2 separate regions of the Homo sapiens genome follow, and region 2 is linked to region 1. The links come from fine-mapping of genetic effects on gene expression. A gene starts in region 1. The other region holds a variant in brackets. All regions are shown on one strand. Distances are from middle to middle.

Evidence for each region. PIP is the estimated chance that this variant, and not a neighbour inherited with it, causes the effect.
Region 2: its variant is fine-mapped to the expression of FJX1 in cerebellum (GTEx, PIP 0.93).

The regions. Positions count from the first base shown.
Region 1 is chr11:35,613,473-35,622,336 of GRCh38, forward strand. It overlaps FJX1 (four-jointed box kinase 1), which reads left to right and starts at 4,988. Exons shown (of 1, transcript NM_014344.4): 1 at 4,988-7,393. The coding sequence starts at 5,165. The coding sequence ends at 6,478. RefSeq lists silencers at 4,576-4,665, 4,696-5,025, 4,847-5,008, 5,106-5,175, 5,196-5,455 and 1 more and enhancers at 5,308-5,942, 5,943-6,577.
Region 2 is chr11:36,121,576-36,130,615 of GRCh38, forward strand. The region is part of intron 4 of LDLRAD3 (low density lipoprotein receptor class A domain containing 3); the gene reads left to right. Among named protein-coding and RNA genes, the nearest start is that of MIR3973, 120 kb to the left of the region's middle. RefSeq lists an enhancer at 2,285-2,454. The variant G/A (reference allele first, on the strand shown) is at 5,080.

The DNA of each region.
Region 1 (8,864 bases):
ATAGATAGAGATATCTATCTATCTATCTACATATAGAGAGAGAGAGACAGAGAGAGAGAGGTTGGGAGGTCCAGGATCAAGGTGCCAGAAGACTGGGTGTCTAGTGGGGCTACTCTTCCTTGCTCATAGGCAGCGGTATTCTTTCTGGGTCCTCACATGATGAAAACAGAGCTGGAGAGCTTACTGGGGTCTCTTTTATAAGGACACTAATCTCATTTATGAGGGCTCTACCCTCATGATTTGATCACCTCCCAAAGGCCCTACCTCCTAATGCCACCATATTGGGAGTTATGATCTCAACATATTAATTTATGGTGCAAGGAGGAACACAAACATTCAGTCCGTAACAGAGATACATACATAATAAAATTATAGCCCAGGGGGTTAGAAAACTCCCCAGGGTCAAAGAGTAGTGGCCAATGTAGGAGTCATACCACTTCCATGGAATATTATACTCATCTCTGACATCTTTTGTCCCCTCTCTTCCTTTTTGTAGAAGCACGTGGAAGGGTACATTTGGACGCCTCTGTCTTTTCCAGGGGCTTATAACTCAGGAGATCCAGAAAAGGTCAGGATTGAAGGAGGCAGACTAGTGAGAGGAAGCCAGAAGCTGTCTGCCCGAGGCTGGCTGGAGGCTCTGGGCATTTAACAAGAGTTACACTGGGAACCTTGGTAGAAGCCAGGTGGTCCAGCTCCATGGGGAAGAAATATTGCAAAATTATCAGGAAAGACACCATTTCAGGCATAAAGCAGGTGCATTGAGCTGGAACACCACTTGTATTAGGTCTCTCAAGACCAAGTGAGACTTGGTGGAGGACAGCAACAAGAGAAGGAAGACATCCCCATCTGAGCACTGAAACAGTGAAATAGAAAGGAAATAGAAAGGAAAAAGAACAACAACAGCTATACTATAGTGAACACTTAGATGCTCTTTTAAGCACTTTAAATATAAGCACTAATTTAATCATCACAATAATCTATAAGATTTGTTCCTATTACTAGTAATCATGAGATATTGTATATTGTTATAATTTTTGTTAGTAATACTAGTAATACTGTTCTTATTGCATTTTACAGATATATACACTGAGGCACAAAGGGGTTAAGTAACTTACCCGAAGTCACATGCCTGGTAAGTGGCAGGACTGGGTTTTAATGAGACAATCTGGCTTGACAGTTCACACTCTTAACCATTTCACTTGGGAACAAACCCCAGAGAACACATGAAACCAAAATTTCATCTCAGTTGAATCTATTTTGATTTAATGTAATAATTTCTGCACCTGACATTTCCCTAGCAGTTTATAATTTACAAAAGGTTTGGTCCCCATCATTTTGGAATCGCAGCCCTGCCACTTCCTTGCTGCATGACCTCATTCCACTGATTGGCTAAGCTTCCACTTCCCCATCTGTAAAGTGGGTATAATAATACTTTTGGGGGGGTTTCATGAGATAAAGCACATGCAGGGTTTAGCTCCACACCGAGCCCATAATAAGAGTTCAATAAGTGTTTGCTGCCACTGATGCTGTGGTTATTATTAATATTTCACTTGAGCTGCATGACAACCCTGTGAGTTAGGAAGGATTTATTAACTTATTTCTCAGGTTCTGAAACTGAAACTCACAGAAAGTAAATAACTAGAACAAGGAACAAGCCAGAAAGTGCTAATGCCAGACTTGGAAAATATTCCAATTCCAAGCCTCCTCCCCTGCTTCCAACCCTCAACTCCACCTCCTCTCTTTCCCCCAGGAGGCACCATTACATGAACCAGATCATTCTTCAAACAGGACTGTGGAAAAGTTTGAAGATATTGGAAGTTCAGGCTCAGGGATAAATTCTAAGGAGTATTAAGAAAGTCATAAAAGTGCAAATGGATTTCTCATCCCCAAGCAACTGCCAGAGGGCAGAAGTGACTGAGGTGATTAACTATGCTACCCCACAGAGCCAAAGTGGTTTGGCCACAGGTGGCAGGGGAGTGTCCTCAGTCCAGAAAATAAAGGAGAATGGGAGTATTTTCATCTAACAGCTAAACAGAGGCATGTTTTTAAACCCTGTCTCAAATAATCAAATACCATTCCAAAACTGCATTCCACTTTGAGGAAGGGGCAGTGTTTGTTCCTTTGGTTTTCTGTATTTCTGCATTTCAATTAATTTGTTAAAGTTTAACAAATTAATGCATCCTGTTCTGGTACATGATGCATTCAGTCCTATGGCTATAGGCAAAGGGCTGCTCAATGATAAAATTAGTCCATCTTATGAGGTGTACGATCTTAGTCAATTTATTTAAGTCTGGGTTTTTTTCATCAGTACCAGCAATATGGTTAGGAGATTCCAGGATTTCTAGTCTCTGGATTTGAAGCCAGCCCTCCCAGAATTAAAATCATGTGCTTCCCCTCACATCTATCATGCAAAACCCTCACCAATATTTTTTCTTTTTCAAATGAGTGGAAGTTCTTATTTTGTATTCTTTAATCAGCTGAACAATAACTCACAACCGTTGGACAAAATTGTTTTGCATTATTTAGTAGTAAGGTATTTAATTTAAAAAAACTTGATACATGCTACTTGCATCTCATTAGCATTCTAACGATGTATTCAGCAAATTGTTGTTGAACACACACTAAGTGCCAGGCATTGTGCCCAGGCAGCCATAAAACAATGGACAAGACAGACTCCCCAGGAAGTTTACAATGGTAGTTACTTACAGCTTTTGTTAGCAGCCAAAAAGACAGAGACCCCAACTACTTTGGATTTCTCCATATCCCCTAGGACATAGCTTGGTACACAGTAGACATTTAATAGTCTTCCGAATTTAACTTCAACAATTAATCATCCAGTTAAAAATGTCTACTTTTCTCCAATTAGATGATACTCTACTTATGCCCACTAGGTGGCGATCTTGCTTATAGTTTGCCCACGCTGAAAGAGGCTGCCTTTCAAATAAATACATATATATCCCAGTAGAAGTTAAACCAAAAGACAAAAAAATTAAATTTATTGAGTGCTTATTTAGTGTAATATACTATGTTAGGTGGTATAAGAAATAAAAAAATAAGACATAGTCCCTGCCTGCTAGGGAAAGATGAGGAGGGGCTTACATAGGCCAAAAAAATAAGACCTTTGAATGGATTAATATATTTCGATGCAACCATATGGGAGCCATAGTAATCTCATTATCAGATAAGAGTTATAAAATGGCATGGTATAGCCACCATGTGGTTGGGAACAGATTCAACAGTTCATCCAGTATGTACTTAACCACACCAGTGAAAACACTTGACTGTATCCTGGGTCAGTGCTGCAATACTCCAAATGTGGTTTTTTGATGCCTCTGCTCAGCCATAAACATAAGAGTGTCTGCTTTATCACCCTGGAACGCTCTATCACCCTAGAACGTTTTTTCTTTGGAGAATAAAACATAATCAGTGCCAACTGATGAGGTAGTCCAGTTGAAAACCCCCATGTGCACCTGATGGGAAGATGAAAGGAGAGAAAAGATACACACCATGTAAGGAAACAGATTTCAAACTCTGGCCTTTGAGAGGTGGATTCCACCATGCCCCTGATCTTGTGTCTACCCTGGGAATCTCAGTGTGGATCTGGGACTCATTCTGATACAGAGAGGTAAGGGAGGGCCGACTGGCATCCAAGTTTTCCTGGTAAATGTAACCCAGAGGTGGCTGGAAGATGTGTTGGGGTGAAGAGGTTGTTCATTTTGTTTTCTTTGCTCCTTCACCACCTCCCTCCCCCACCACCACCACCATTTCTTTTTCCCTTAAATCGTAAAAGCAGTAAATCAAATGCAGTATGGGATTGAGGTTTTTTTCCTTTCCATTTGAAAAATCCTTTTAATTGAAAAATCACATTTGGGGAACAAAGTGGTCAAATGACAGTGAATTTCAAACTTGAGAATGCTGACTTGATTAAAAAAAAAATACTGATCTTTCTTAATGGAGGGAAAATCAAGTGCATGCGGCCAGGAGACCTGAGTTTGACTTTTAGCTTCGCCCCTTGCTAATTGTGCAATCCTGAGCAACACCCATCCCTTCTCTGTGCCTCAGTTTCCTCATGGACAAAACGGTATCATTTCTTTCGAAAAGTCGTCCCTGACTCCCCTCTCCCCAACACGAGGTTGGATGGCTATAATCTCTCTTAGCAACCTGAGAGTCCCACTGGAATGTAAATTTCAGCAGCACTGGGACCCGGATCTGTGGATTTTGCTTCTGGTAAGCAGAACCAGAACTGAGGGGCAGTCGCTGTGTTGAATGGATGCATGAATGAATGGGAGATGGCCTAGGTGTTCAAGGGGCACGTGCACAGCGAGGCTTCATTCCCTGGGAGTCCGTTGGGAAAGGCAGAGCGGCCAATACTGATTGGTGCTGATGTGCGAGCTCGGAAAAGGGAGTGTCGGTTCAAAGTTGTTGGCTACAGCGGGTTCCTCTTTCCGCTGGAATCACATCCTCTGTGGCTCGGAGACATTCCCAGAGATTTACATAAAGCAGCGTGAATCACCCAGACAGAAACTGAGAAAGCAAAGGGACCCTGCCTGATCCTAGCCTGGCGGAGCTCGGAAAGAGGTGGAAATCTGTCTGAAGTTTGCAGGAGACCCGCGCTGCCTAGGCAAAGGGACCCGGCGACCAAGACACCCCCGCGAGGGCCCAGGGCGCGTCCCTCCCGCCAGGCCCCAGACTCCGGCTCTGCGCCACCCCCTCCTACGCCCCGGCGCGGGCGCAGCCAGTCCGGCTTCCTCCAGGCCCCCAAGTCCCGGACCGAGTGTGGGGCCGCCTCTCCCTCTCGGAAGGAGCCATCGCCGCTTTAAGTGGAAGAGGAGAGGAAGGGGGCGGGGGAGCGGGGGGCGGGGAGCGGAGGCGGAGGAGGGGGAGGGGGATCCCCCTGGCTCCCACGTGGTCCGGGCGCCTGTGAATCGCGCCCACCGGAGGGTCTCACAGCGAAATACAAAAGCAGCTGGGAAGCGGCGGGGACTCGAGTTCCCAGCGCCGGGCGGAGCGCCGGACAGAGCCCCGCAGCGCCCCGCGGCCGCGATGGGGCCGAAGCGCCCGAAGCCCCGGAGCCCACAAACTGCCGGGCCCGCCTCGCCGCCGGGACCCGGGTGCCTGGGCTCGGCTTGAAGCGGCGGCGGCGCACCGGCACAGCCGCGGGAGCATGGGCAGGAGGATGCGGGGCGCCGCCGCCACCGCGGGGCTCTGGCTGCTGGCGCTGGGCTCGCTGCTGGCGCTGTGGGGAGGGCTCCTGCCGCCGCGGACCGAGCTGCCCGCCTCCCGGCCGCCCGAAGACCGACTCCCACGGCGCCCGGCCCGGAGCGGCGGCCCCGCGCCCGCGCCTCGCTTCCCTCTGCCCCCGCCCCTGGCGTGGGACGCCCGCGGCGGCTCCCTGAAAACTTTCCGGGCGCTGCTCACCCTGGCGGCCGGCGCGGACGGCCCGCCCCGGCAGTCCCGGAGCGAGCCCAGGTGGCACGTGTCAGCCAGGCAGCCCCGGCCGGAGGAGAGCGCCGCGGTGCACGGGGGCGTCTTCTGGAGCCGCGGCCTGGAGGAGCAGGTGCCCCCGGGCTTTTCGGAGGCCCAGGCGGCGGCGTGGCTGGAGGCGGCTCGCGGCGCCCGGATGGTGGCCCTGGAGCGCGGGGGTTGCGGGCGCAGCTCCAACCGACTGGCCCGTTTTGCCGACGGCACCCGCGCCTGCGTGCGCTACGGCATCAACCCGGAGCAGATTCAGGGCGAGGCCCTGTCTTACTATCTGGCGCGCCTGCTGGGCCTCCAGCGCCACGTGCCGCCGCTGGCACTGGCTCGGGTGGAGGCTCGGGGCGCGCAGTGGGCGCAGGTGCAGGAGGAGCTGCGCGCTGCGCACTGGACCGAGGGCAGCGTGGTGAGCCTGACACGCTGGCTGCCCAACCTCACGGACGTGGTGGTGCCCGCGCCCTGGCGCTCGGAGGACGGCCGTCTGCGCCCCCTCCGGGATGCCGGGGGTGAGCTGGCCAACCTCAGCCAGGCGGAGCTGGTGGACCTAGTACAATGGACCGACTTAATCCTTTTCGACTACCTGACGGCCAACTTCGACCGGCTCGTAAGCAACCTCTTCAGCCTGCAGTGGGACCCGCGCGTCATGCAGCGTGCCACCAGCAACCTGCACCGCGGTCCGGGCGGGGCGCTGGTCTTTCTGGACAATGAGGCGGGCTTGGTGCACGGCTACCGGGTAGCAGGCATGTGGGACAAGTATAACGAGCCGCTGTTGCAGTCAGTGTGCGTGTTCCGCGAGCGGACCGCGCGGCGCGTCCTGGAGCTGCACCGCGGACAGGACGCCGCGGCCCGGCTGCTGCGCCTCTACCGGCGCCACGAGCCTCGCTTCCCCGAGCTGGCCGCCCTTGCAGACCCCCACGCTCAGCTGCTACAGCGCCGCCTCGACTTCCTCGCCAAGCACATTTTGCACTGTAAGGCCAAGTACGGCCGCCGGTCTGGGACTTAGTGTCACCGGGAGGAAAAGAGAGAGATCTGGGGCTGGGGTATGGATGATGGGGGGAAGGGCGGTCGCCTCTGCCACTGTCAGGGACCAGCCGGCCAACGCCCACCCGCAAAGGTGTCTAAAAACTTCAGCTTTTCACCCACCTGCCCCTTTCTTTCAATCCCACGCTGTTTCCTTTCAAAGTTCTGGGAGGACGAACTCACCGAGGCGAGAAGTGTAACATTCTCTCCACCCAGCTTATAAAAGGATTCTTTACTGTGCCAGCACGGGGATTGGATCCGAAGAAACTGGCTACTGGGGTTTGGCCCCCGAGTGGCCGTCCCTGTGGGAGATGCACCCCATTCTTGGGCCCCCCCTCATTCCCTTTCCGAAAAAGGAAAACTTGCGTTTGAGCCGTTGAGCTAATTCTGCAATTTTCTACCAAACAGAGCGCTGGTGGCCCCGGAGCAGGGCTGTGACATTGGCTGGTGGAGCCCCCTTCCTGTGTTCTCCCTTTGTTCCAGCGCCGCGATGGTGAGATCACTGTTCCAAGCAGGGGGACGGCTCGCGATAGGACAAAGAGAGCAGGACCTCCAGACTCTGGGGAGCCCTGCAGACCTTGACAATTTGCCTGACTCATTCCTGACCTCTTGTCATTTTGGCCTGAAGGCTACAAATTCAGGGTCAGCTGTATGCACTAAGTCAAATAATGAATTTCTTCCTCCCTCTCGCAACCGACCAAAATTTTGACAACGATGATGTTCACCAGAAGGAAAAAAAAAAATCAGTTTTATGCACTTTATTTTGTTTTGATTTTCATTTTTTATTAAGAAAAAATTTTATTTTACAGAATTTACCTTCTCTGTATATATGTGCATAAAGTGTGGTGTAAATATACTAAACAAACTTATATTTCAATAAAAGGGAGTTTAAAATTTATAATTTAATTCCTGTGGTTTTAACTTGTTTGATGTTTCTGATGCCCCATCTGCTTTCAGAATAAGATTTAGGTTTTCTTTCTTGTGGATGTGTTTTTAAAACAAAGGATGCATATCCATTCCAGTTGTGACTACGGAACTTACAGAATTGAACAAAGATAAGAGCAGACTCCCTGTCCTCACTCAGATGAACCTTGGTGCTGGAAATTTGAGTTTAGCCTAAAATGTGGGGGAAGATGGGGAGAGAGATGGGAGGAAAGTGTTCTATTTCCTGGCAAATAAAACTTCGATGTGAAAGGATTTCACTGTAGTATATTCCTATATTAATCATTTGGCAAATATGATAGAATCAGATGTGGGGACTAAAATATGACAAACACCCCCTTTTTAAACTTAACTACCGTGATCACATGTTGCAAATTATTATCAGCGTTGTAATTACAGTGCATCACAATGTGTACAGATGATAAGCTGAGCCCACATTGGGAGCAGGTAGAGAAAGTCATAAATTAATTCTTCTCTTAAATCTCCTGGCATAAATTCCAATGGATTCAGAAGATCATAATCTCCAACATCTGGAGTCATCCAGTTCTCTGAAGAGGTTGTACTGTTTTCTGGGTACTAAGTGCATGGTCCCCTCAGAGCAGCCAGCGTGAGACCATGAAGGCGTACAGTGCTTTGTGTATGACATTTGGACCCTTTCTAGGACTTCAAACAAATTATTTTTGGATTTTTATCTCAAGAGGAAGAGCTTGATTTGTATTTTACGGCCCTTGGTGTTTTATTTTGGCATTTTCTTTGGTATCTGGGCCCAAGTGATCTTGCCTGTTACCTTCTTTTTATTTAATGACCTTTAACTCAAATCAACTTTTGGTTGCAACTTTAATAGTTTTTTATTTGACTTGCATTTGTAAACCTAGGGTTTTATAGACTCAGGAAGCTATTAAATCTCTGGGGGTTCCCCTTCTCACTCTGCATTACAACATAGTGTGTAATTTAACTATTTAATGTCATCCTTATGTTTTCAGTGCCTTTTGCTAAGCCAAATCTTATCTCAGCCTTAAAAAAAAAATAGTCCATAAACTCTCTGTGGTGTAAGTCAAGTGTTTGCACAGTACAGCCATAGAATGTACTGATAATCGGAAATTTATCTTTTTTCAAGACATTGTTAATGGGATACCTCTCATAATTACACCTTTCAGAAAGAAACATTTTCCATTTCTGGTGATTATTTCACTATTAGATTTGCTGCTTTAGTTAATGGAGGCTGTTCCAAGAACAGGACAAGTATTCAGCAACCTGCATTTTTACCCAACATATTCATGGAGGAAAACAATGAGCAGTAATAAGTTAGAAGTTTCACAGATTGCACAGGAAATACATCCTGGATCCCATGAAGATTCAGCACTGGTGAGTTCTGGGCCAGCAGCATTCTCTACATTCTTTCTAAACTTCAGTTCCAAGCCCAGACT
Region 2 (9,040 bases), 510 kb after region 1:
TATGGTTCGGGAAAATAATTGCTGGTTGTGGAATTCTGGAGAAGTAGTATCGCAAAAGAGAGACATGCACAGAAGTGTTCAGGCAGGGAGAGCTGGTTTGTATAAATAAGAGCTTGATGAGCTATCTGTTATGATTTATGCTAGGAATCCATAGCCTCTGTGCTTCTCACACAGTACATAAACCCAAAAGGTCGCCTCTAGTTTGGAGTGGTGATGCTGTGCCAGTGTGGGAGCAGGCAAGGCCGTGAGGCCTTCTTCCTCACAAATCCAGCACCTCCCACCTGCCATCGGGTAAAGAGAGGGAGGGCACTGCAATGGCTGGTGTTACTGAGCCCTCGCGGCATGCCAGGCACTGCTCATTCGTGTTTTACACCATTTCGGAATCCTTTGAGGAAGTTATTTCTATTATCACAATCCCCATTTTACAGGAGGGGAAAGTGAGGTTAAGGGAGACAATGGGATAGGCATGAGGTCATCCAGTAAATGGCAGAGCCAGGATTCGAACCCACACTCTTGTGACCTCAGAGCCCAAGCTCTTAACTATGCCTTCCACAGACACAATCCATGCACCTTAGGATTTTTACCTGAGGTTCTTAGTTTGGTTTGGGGGACCAAAGGAACAAGTAAACAAGCAGAAAATGATGAGGAAGGGCTGTGCTGTGTGCCCAAGCGAGGAAGCAAAAGGATGGGCATGAACAATTTGTAGATGCCATCCAGAACAGAGTGGTCAAGGATTTGGAGGCTCAGTGCAGGGGGAGAAGTGGGAAGGGCTTGTGCTGTACACATGAGGGTTAGGAACTGATGAAGCCACCTCCCCAAGCCTCAGATTTTCCATCTGAAAAATGGAAACAGGATTCATCTCCTTAATTGTGACTATCAAGTGTAATAACGTTGGTAAAGAGCTTAGCACAGGCTTGGCACATGGTAGGACTCCATAAATAGACACTGCAATTATTCGTTCTGTGGTTACTGCATGACGATGATGATAACAATAATAATTACTATTATTATTAAGCAGGAACTGTTTTAGGTGCTGGGAAACCAAAAGGAAAAAACTCCATCCCCAGCCCCTAGGAGCCTGTAGTCTAGTGAAGGAGATAAACTTGTGAACAGATAATTCCTATCTAACTGCTTGCTTCCTTTTCTATGCACTCATGGTACTGCCTGGTGTGATGGTTCATGCCTGTAATCCCAGCACTTTGGGAGGGCATGGCAGAAGGATTGCTTAAGCCCAGGAGTTCAATACCAACCTGGGCAACATAACGAGATCCTATCTCAATTTTTAAATAAATAAATAAAATAAAATTTCATACAAGGCTAGGAAAGTGACTCATGCCTGTAATAAATACCAGCACTTTGGGAAGCTGAGGTGGGAGGATTGTTTGAGCTAAGGAGTTTGAGACCAGCCTGGGCCACGCAGTGAGACCTTGTCTCTACAACAACAACAACAAAAATTTAAAAATCAGCCAGACATGATGGCACATGCCTGTAGTCCCGACTGCTTGGGAGGTTGAGGTGGGAGGATCACTTGAGCCCAGGAGGTCAAGGCTGCAATGAACTATGATGGCACCACTGCATTCCAGCCTGGGCGACAGAGCGAGACTCCGTCTCAAAATAATAATAATAATAATAATAATAAAAGTGTGGTACATAATAAGTATTCAGCAGATACTTTCAAATGAGTAACCATCAGTGCTTATTTTTAAATGTAATATGATGTGTGCAACACAAGAGTTGAACCCAGCCTAGAGCTCAGCTAATCGTAGCTCACCAAGCTTAGCTCCATTCTACAAGCTGGTGCAGGTTTGCCCTACCTGCTTTTCTTTCTCCTGGGAGCAATGTGCTGCCCCACAGCATGGTTTTCTCCTGGCAGTATTAGAAGTACAAAATCGCAAGCCCAGCTCTATAAGCATATTTTAAGCATCTGCTCATTTGTCCCATTGACCCCAAGGTAAGTCACATGACCAAGCCCAAGATCAGTGGGGCAGATAAATATATTCTATCTCCAGCCAGAGAGGCTGCAAGGTGGCATGGCCAAGTGCACGGGTGTGGAAAGGGTGAAGAATTGGAAACAGTTATGCCTCTTTCACAGTGAAGTTTGGAGGGGGAGTAGGCCCTAGCCACAAATGTCTGCCCCTTGGCCTGGCAGATGTCCTGTTTTCCAGGAGTCCAGCCAGGCTGTGGCACAGTGCCGACCCCCTGACTCTTGTCCGAGGGTCTGTGCCAACCACCCGGACTCCTAAAGTCCGGCTGTGGCTGTAGAGTTGAATATTGGCTGAAGCCAGGCTGCCTTTTATTGAGTCTGCCTCCGCCTCATTATTTACATAGACTGTAAAATAAAGCTTAACTCAAAATTACCGTAAGTCAGCGCATCCGAGTGAAGCCGGCAGCTGGACCTTCACAACTGAAAGCAGACTAAATAAAAGGGGGAGGATGAAAAAAGAAGAGCTGCAAATAAGATGTCAGGGAATGCTTAATTATATAAAGGTTATGCATTTGCCTGCATAATTGTCCAAAGCAACTGATGGCAACAGCTGGCAGAGAAGCTGGTCTTCAGCTCTATTTGTGTTTATCTGGTGCCTGTCACCGTAATAGCTACAAGAAGTATTGATCACAAATTAATTTGGCCTCATTCCTTCTCCTTTTTGTCTCTACCCTTATCAGTCTCACTTCCCCTACTAAAATAGGAAGGCTATTGAATACATGGAGAAAACTTGGAGTTTGTGGAGGCTGAGGCTACCAAGTATCATGGAAGCAATATACTATATGCCAGGCACTAGCATAGGTAGCATTTGTAACTGACTTTTTTAATAAAACAACCCTATAAGGTAGGTATTCTTATTCCTGTTTTACATATAAGGGTAGTGAGACCCAGAGAGATGAACTCATTTGACAAAAGTCACACAGCTTGGGGTAGCCTGGTGATTCCCTTAACCACGGCTCTCCCAACTGGGCTCTGCAAGGTGGGTATTTTGGGAGTTTTTTCACTGCACCTGGAGTGAAATCTGAACCCTTTACCACAGACTACATACCCTGTATGTTCTAACTGGTCTTCAAGCACATCTTCTCCTGGTATCCTCCACCTTGTCCGGCACGCTAGTCTCCTTTTCCTTTCTTTTTTTTTTTTTTTCTTGGAGACAGAGTCTCACTCTGTCGCCCAGGCTGGAGTGCAGTGGCATGATCTTGGCTCACTGCAACCTCTGCCACCTGGGTTCAAGCAATTCTCATGCCTCAGACTCCCGAGTAGCTGGGATTACAGGCTTGTGCCACCATGCCCAGCTAATTTTGGTATTTTTAGTAGAGACGGGGTTTCGCCATGTTGGTCAGGCTGGTCTTGATCTCCTGGCCTCAAGTGATCTGCCTGCCTTGACCTCCTCATTTCCATTTCTTAGACATGCCAAGCTCTTTCCTGTTTAAGGGTCTTTGCAGGTGCTGTTACCTCTGCCTAGAACTGTGTTCCTGCAAGGTCACCCGTTCTACCTTAGCTGTTTCCCTCCTCACCCTTAGTATTATTGTTCACAGTGTCCAGAGTGTTTGTTCCAGGGCAGTTATCATACTTATCAGTTGTGCCTTTATGATTGTGGGTCTGCACTCTGATCTGTGCATTCCATGTAAGCAGGGATCATACTTGTTTCATTCACTTATGTGTACCTAGATCCTGGTACACAGAGGCAGTAGAGTGCATTAGAGCATGGTCTCTGAAAGCAACTTCCCGGGTTCAAATTCCAGCTCTGCCACTTATTGTCGACTATGTGACTTTTAGGCGGATGACTTTCTCTTTCTGTCCTCGTTTTCTCTGCCTGTAAAATAGGAATAATGATATTGTTGTGTAGAATGAATTAAGACATAAAAATGCTTTGTACAGTGCCTAATACGCAGCAAGCAGTACATGTTTCACTGCTGTTAGTCATCATGATTAAAATCATTAGCACATAGTAGATAGTCAATGTTTGTTGAATGGATGAATGAATTTCTAATCGCAGAAGGGTAAACAGGCCTCAGCTGGTCGATGGGGTGAGTTTGTAAGCTCAGTGTGAGACTGCTCCATCTGAGATGACACGGTGATCAAAGGGTTGTTCTTTAAGGTGTGCTGATCTCCACTACTCGGCACCCAACTGCCCAAACAGTGCTGTAAGGTGAACAGATTTGGGAGACCACTTTTTGTGATTCCGTAAGTTATTTTGGTGGAGGTGGACAGAGTTTTGGTGGTGGAGAATGGTGTCTTCTTGCTCCTGCAGTGCACAAGATGTTTTCAAGCCACATGGAGGGTGTGGCTGGTAGGCTCTATGGTCCTGTTCCGTCCCCTCCCATAACCCCCTCAACCTGATCTGCTGCAAAAGGCTACCCCCCTTGGAAGGCAGCTGATAGAGAAGCTGTAGGCTTATGCTGGGACCCCACCAGGGACAAATGAGGCCGATTTGGAGACACTGTGGAACCAGGAAGTCAGTCTGCACATTGTGATCTGCGCCTGCGATGCTCCTCCCCACCCTTCACGTACAGTGCTGTTTGGAGGGCTCAGTCCTGCTTTCTGCTCTCCTCTTGCCTTTGGTTCTCCTTTGGCAGGATCCCGCAGGAAGCGTTAGAACCCCACCACTGCTCCCGATGCCTTGCTTCTGTCTGCTGCTGGTCCCCGCTGCCTGCACTGCCCGCCCCCTCATCACCTATCTCTGCTGGCCTCTCAAGGGCACTGCATTGTCCTTCAGTTCCTGGGCGTGAATCTGCTCATCAGGCACCATTTACCTTCTCCAGCCCTGTGCCCTGTTCCTAAATCAAGGCTTACACCCACCAAGAGCAGGGTTTCTTTTATCCCACTGTAATCACTCCTAATGTAATCAATATGCTCAGATCTCTTATTGGAGAGAGTAAGTTATCACCAAGACCCCTGCCAGCCCCATTTCAGCCAATTCCAGCATGCAGGGAAGAGGTTGAGGATTGGCCTTCGGTGTGGTCAGGGTCGGGAGGCTGGTCCCCAGAAGAAGCCAGTTGTTGGCTGTGCCTTTGGGGCAGCGGAGTCTGGAGCCCGGATCATCCATCAGGGCTATCAGCCTTGTTTGGGTTTTTCAGTGGAAGCTCATTCAC[G/A]TATGCAATAATGGGATGCTGGGTGGTCTAAGTTGCCTTTTGATTTTTAGTCTCCGGGAACTCCAGTGTTCCTGGTGTTATTTGGTATGTCTGTGGCTTTAATTTCCTTTTTAATTTCTGTTGAAAGGAAGAAAGAACTCTGTGGAGTTATAATCTGCAGAGAACCTATGTTGTAAGACCAGTGGGTGTCCTGAATGGCTAAGTAATTAGAACATGCATAATCACCCAGAGTTAAACCCACTGCCGAGCAAGTGCATCCTGTGAACTCGACTGTGTAAACAAAATTGTGCAGAATCAGCCCAAAAGGAAAATTCAACAAATGTGAGCAGTGGTCATCCCTGGTGGTGGATTGTAGAGAATTTAATGTCTGGTTTTGCCCATTTTTCAGTTTTTTACACTGAGCACATTACTGTTGTGTTTTGAAAGAAAGACACGCATTAAAAAATAACCAACACCTGTATTCTTGTCAACACTTGATCTTGCAATCTTAATATAGAAGACTGCAAAAAAATGACTGTTAGAAGCTAAAGATACAGGTTTAAGGAATGTCTTTACTTTATTGTTTATATAATGAAATATTAATATAATAAAACTACAGATTTGCATATGGAATTGGGGTTAAACAGAGGTTTGAAGGATTATCAATTATGAATAGTTTATGGTGAAAGTTACACAATAAAACAGTACTGAGAGGAAGGTGTTTTTCACTTATATATTTGAATTTATATAGTACATGCTGTTTAATCCTGGCTGGTTCCTTAAATCTCACTTTGTCTCAGTTTCACCATCTGTAAAATTGGGGTACTAGCCTGTTAGGTTATTTTTAGGAAGATGTGATTAATATTTGTGAAATTCTTAGAACAGGATTGGAACATAGTAGGTACTCAAGAAATGCTTGATGCTGCTGGGTTAGTCTTATTGTTGTGATACAGAGGCTTTGACAACAGTTTTTGCTCCTACATCAGAAGTAACAGTAGGTAAAGCTATAATGTTAGTTAACCTGAGTAGACTTCTTACCATGTCTGAGCCACCATGCTAAGTTTTTTATTTAGGTTATGTCATTTGCTCCTCAAATCTGCTTCATATCAGTTTAGGATGTAAGGGCTCAGAGAGGTTAAGTGACCTGCCCAAGATCACACAGCTTGTAAGAATTTGATTCCAAAGCTCATGCTCTGAATCACTGTTTTATTACCTAGTATTGTATTTTTTGTTCTTCTGCAGGTACCCAAAATATGCACTTGCCTTTACTTTCCCTGGGTCAAAGGTCCACCAGTTGAGGTGTTTTAATGCCCTTCCAAAGATATATGTTGGGAATTTCTCCAGCTGTTTCCCCAAAGCAGCCTCCTCCTGGTGGATGTACACCGAGGAGGCAGGAGCTACCCCACACTCACTGATCTGAGGCATCAGGTGGCCGGGAGGTTCATAACTCAACTGTTGCGTATTGATGGCAGAGTTGTTTTTACATATATATATATATATATGTATATGACATGTAGGCAATTAAACTTAGAATGGGAACTGAAAGATGAAGAATTAATTCCCTGTTTGTTTGTAATACTGTGTGTAGGCAAACAATTAATCAGCATCTGTATAAATACCCTCCCCATAGGGGTCTGGCCCAGGGACAGGGAGCTCCTCTGCCTCCTGCTAGCTGGAGAATATTGGTCCATCTCACGCATTTAACCGCAATTTCTTCTGCCCAGCCTTGTGCTGGATGCTTCAACAAGTGAAGCTTACCAAACCACCATGCACAGATGCTCCCCCTGGGACTCGTGGGTAGAGATGCCAGAGGGTGCCATCATAAAGGACTGTAGAAGCCCGTGCACCTGGGAAATTGGACTTTATCTCGAGAGCAGTGGGGAGCCCAAAGGGCAGAACTACAATCCAGTTTTTAATCAGAAAAACCACTCTAGGCTGGGCACGGTGATTCATGCCTGTAATCCCAACACTTTGGGAGGCTGAAGTGGGTAGATTGCCTGAGGTCGGGACTTCAAGACCAGCTTGGGCAACATGGTGAAACCCCATCTCTACTAAAAATACAAAAATTAGCCTGGTGTGGTGATAGGCACCTGTAGTCTCAGCTACTCAGGTGGCTGAGTCAGGAGAATCGCTTGAACCCAGGAGGCTGAGGTTGCAGTGAGTGGAGATCACATTACTGCACTCCAGCCTGGGTAAGAGAGTGAGACTGTGTCTCAAGGAAAAAAAAAAAAAAGAGAGAAAAGAAAAATCACCCTAGCATCGGTGGAACAGTGATGGGCAGAGGCCAAGGTTAGTAGAGAGACACTGGCTGGGATGCTACCTTTGTAGTCTACATGAGGGATGGTGGTGGCTTTCCCTGTGAGATGGAGGGAAATGGACAAAGTCAAGAGATGTCAGGGAAGTAGAAGTACAGGTCTCAATACTAGATTTGATGTTTGGGGAGTAGAGAGGAATAATGATGAGGGAACCAGCCCCTGCCTCCAGCTCGAGAGATTTAATAGACCTTCCCAGATAGAAATGTCCCGGTCATTGTGTGGGAAGGTTAATTTAGAAGAGCATATGGCATTTGTTCTCTGCCTGCTTCTGAGAAGAACACTATTAGCCCTTTTCTAAGTCCTTTCTAAAACAAAAACAAAACCCAAAGGATTTGGCTTGCAACTGTCGATGGCAGAGGCTGCTGCAAGCAGGACTTGGTGTTTTGCTGATTCGAACATTGAGCAGAGGTATGTGGTCTGGGATTCCCTGTGAAATCAGCCCCAGAGCCTTCATCTCCAATAGCCTGTGCCAACCTAGAAGGCCAATATGAAAGTTGAACGAGGAACTAGGAATGGTCCTGTCCCAGAGTCCCTTCAGAGGAGGTGAGCCAGTATCAAATCCGACCTTGCTGGGACCCCAAGGGATGTTCTGCACTCAGATTTTATAAATCGTCCTTTGTGCCAGGTCCCTTCCCGGGAGCCACAGGCATGACTTAGGTTGTTGCGTGGATTCCCTTACCTAGGGCATAGAGAGGCCATGCAATTGATCATTGCTCTGAGGCAGTCAGAAAATGTGGAAGGAGGCATCCCAGCTGAAACATCTGCCCTAAGCCTCCTTCTTGGCCCTAAAACCTGCCTGGAATGTTCACCACCCCCAACACTCTCCCCAATCCACCCACCTCCTCTGGGTCTTTGCTCAGTGAGACCTTCCCTGACCACCCTCTATCAAACTGCATCTTTTCCCTTCCCTGCTATATTTTTCTCTGTAGTATTTATCACCACTGGGTGTACACTGTCCTTACATTCATTCTTGTTGTTTGCTAGTCTCCCTCTGTAAGATAAAAGCTCCAGGAGGGAACTTCCGTGTTTTGTTTGTTGTTCATTGCAGTATCCTCAGCCCCCATAGTGGTGCCTGGAACTCAGGAGGGGCTCAGTCAATATTTGTTGAATGGATAGTAATAGTAATGGCTAGCTTTTATCAGCTGAGACCCTATGCTTACAGTTCACTGAAGAGTTGAGAGACAGGCATTGAACAGGCAATTTCAAGTGTGATGATTCGTGTAAGGAAAAGTGTAGGACACGATAGTAGCACGGTGGGCTTCCCTGAGGAAGGGGCATTTGGCTGAGACCTGAAGGGTGATAAGACCCTGAAGAGAAGAGTCTTCCCGGTGGAGGGAGCAGCATTTGTGAGGGCATAAGGTAAAGAGAATGGGGCTGACGGGATAGAACTCACAAATGAAGTGTGCAGAGGCTTGTCTGGATGTGTCCACGGGGGCTGGAAGGGGCTGGATTTTAGAAAAAGTATTAAGATCCCAGCCTTGATCCTCAGGACAGCGTGAGGCCATCAAAAGGTTCGGAAGGAAGTTTGGAGGGCAGAAGGCTGGAGGGAATGCTTCCTTGCCCAGATGAAGCCTGAATGACTCGCAGGGCTGGGGCAAGCTGCCGCCAGTTTTATCCACAAAGCAGCAACCACTTCTGCTAAGATAGTGATGACTCCGAGCCCCTCC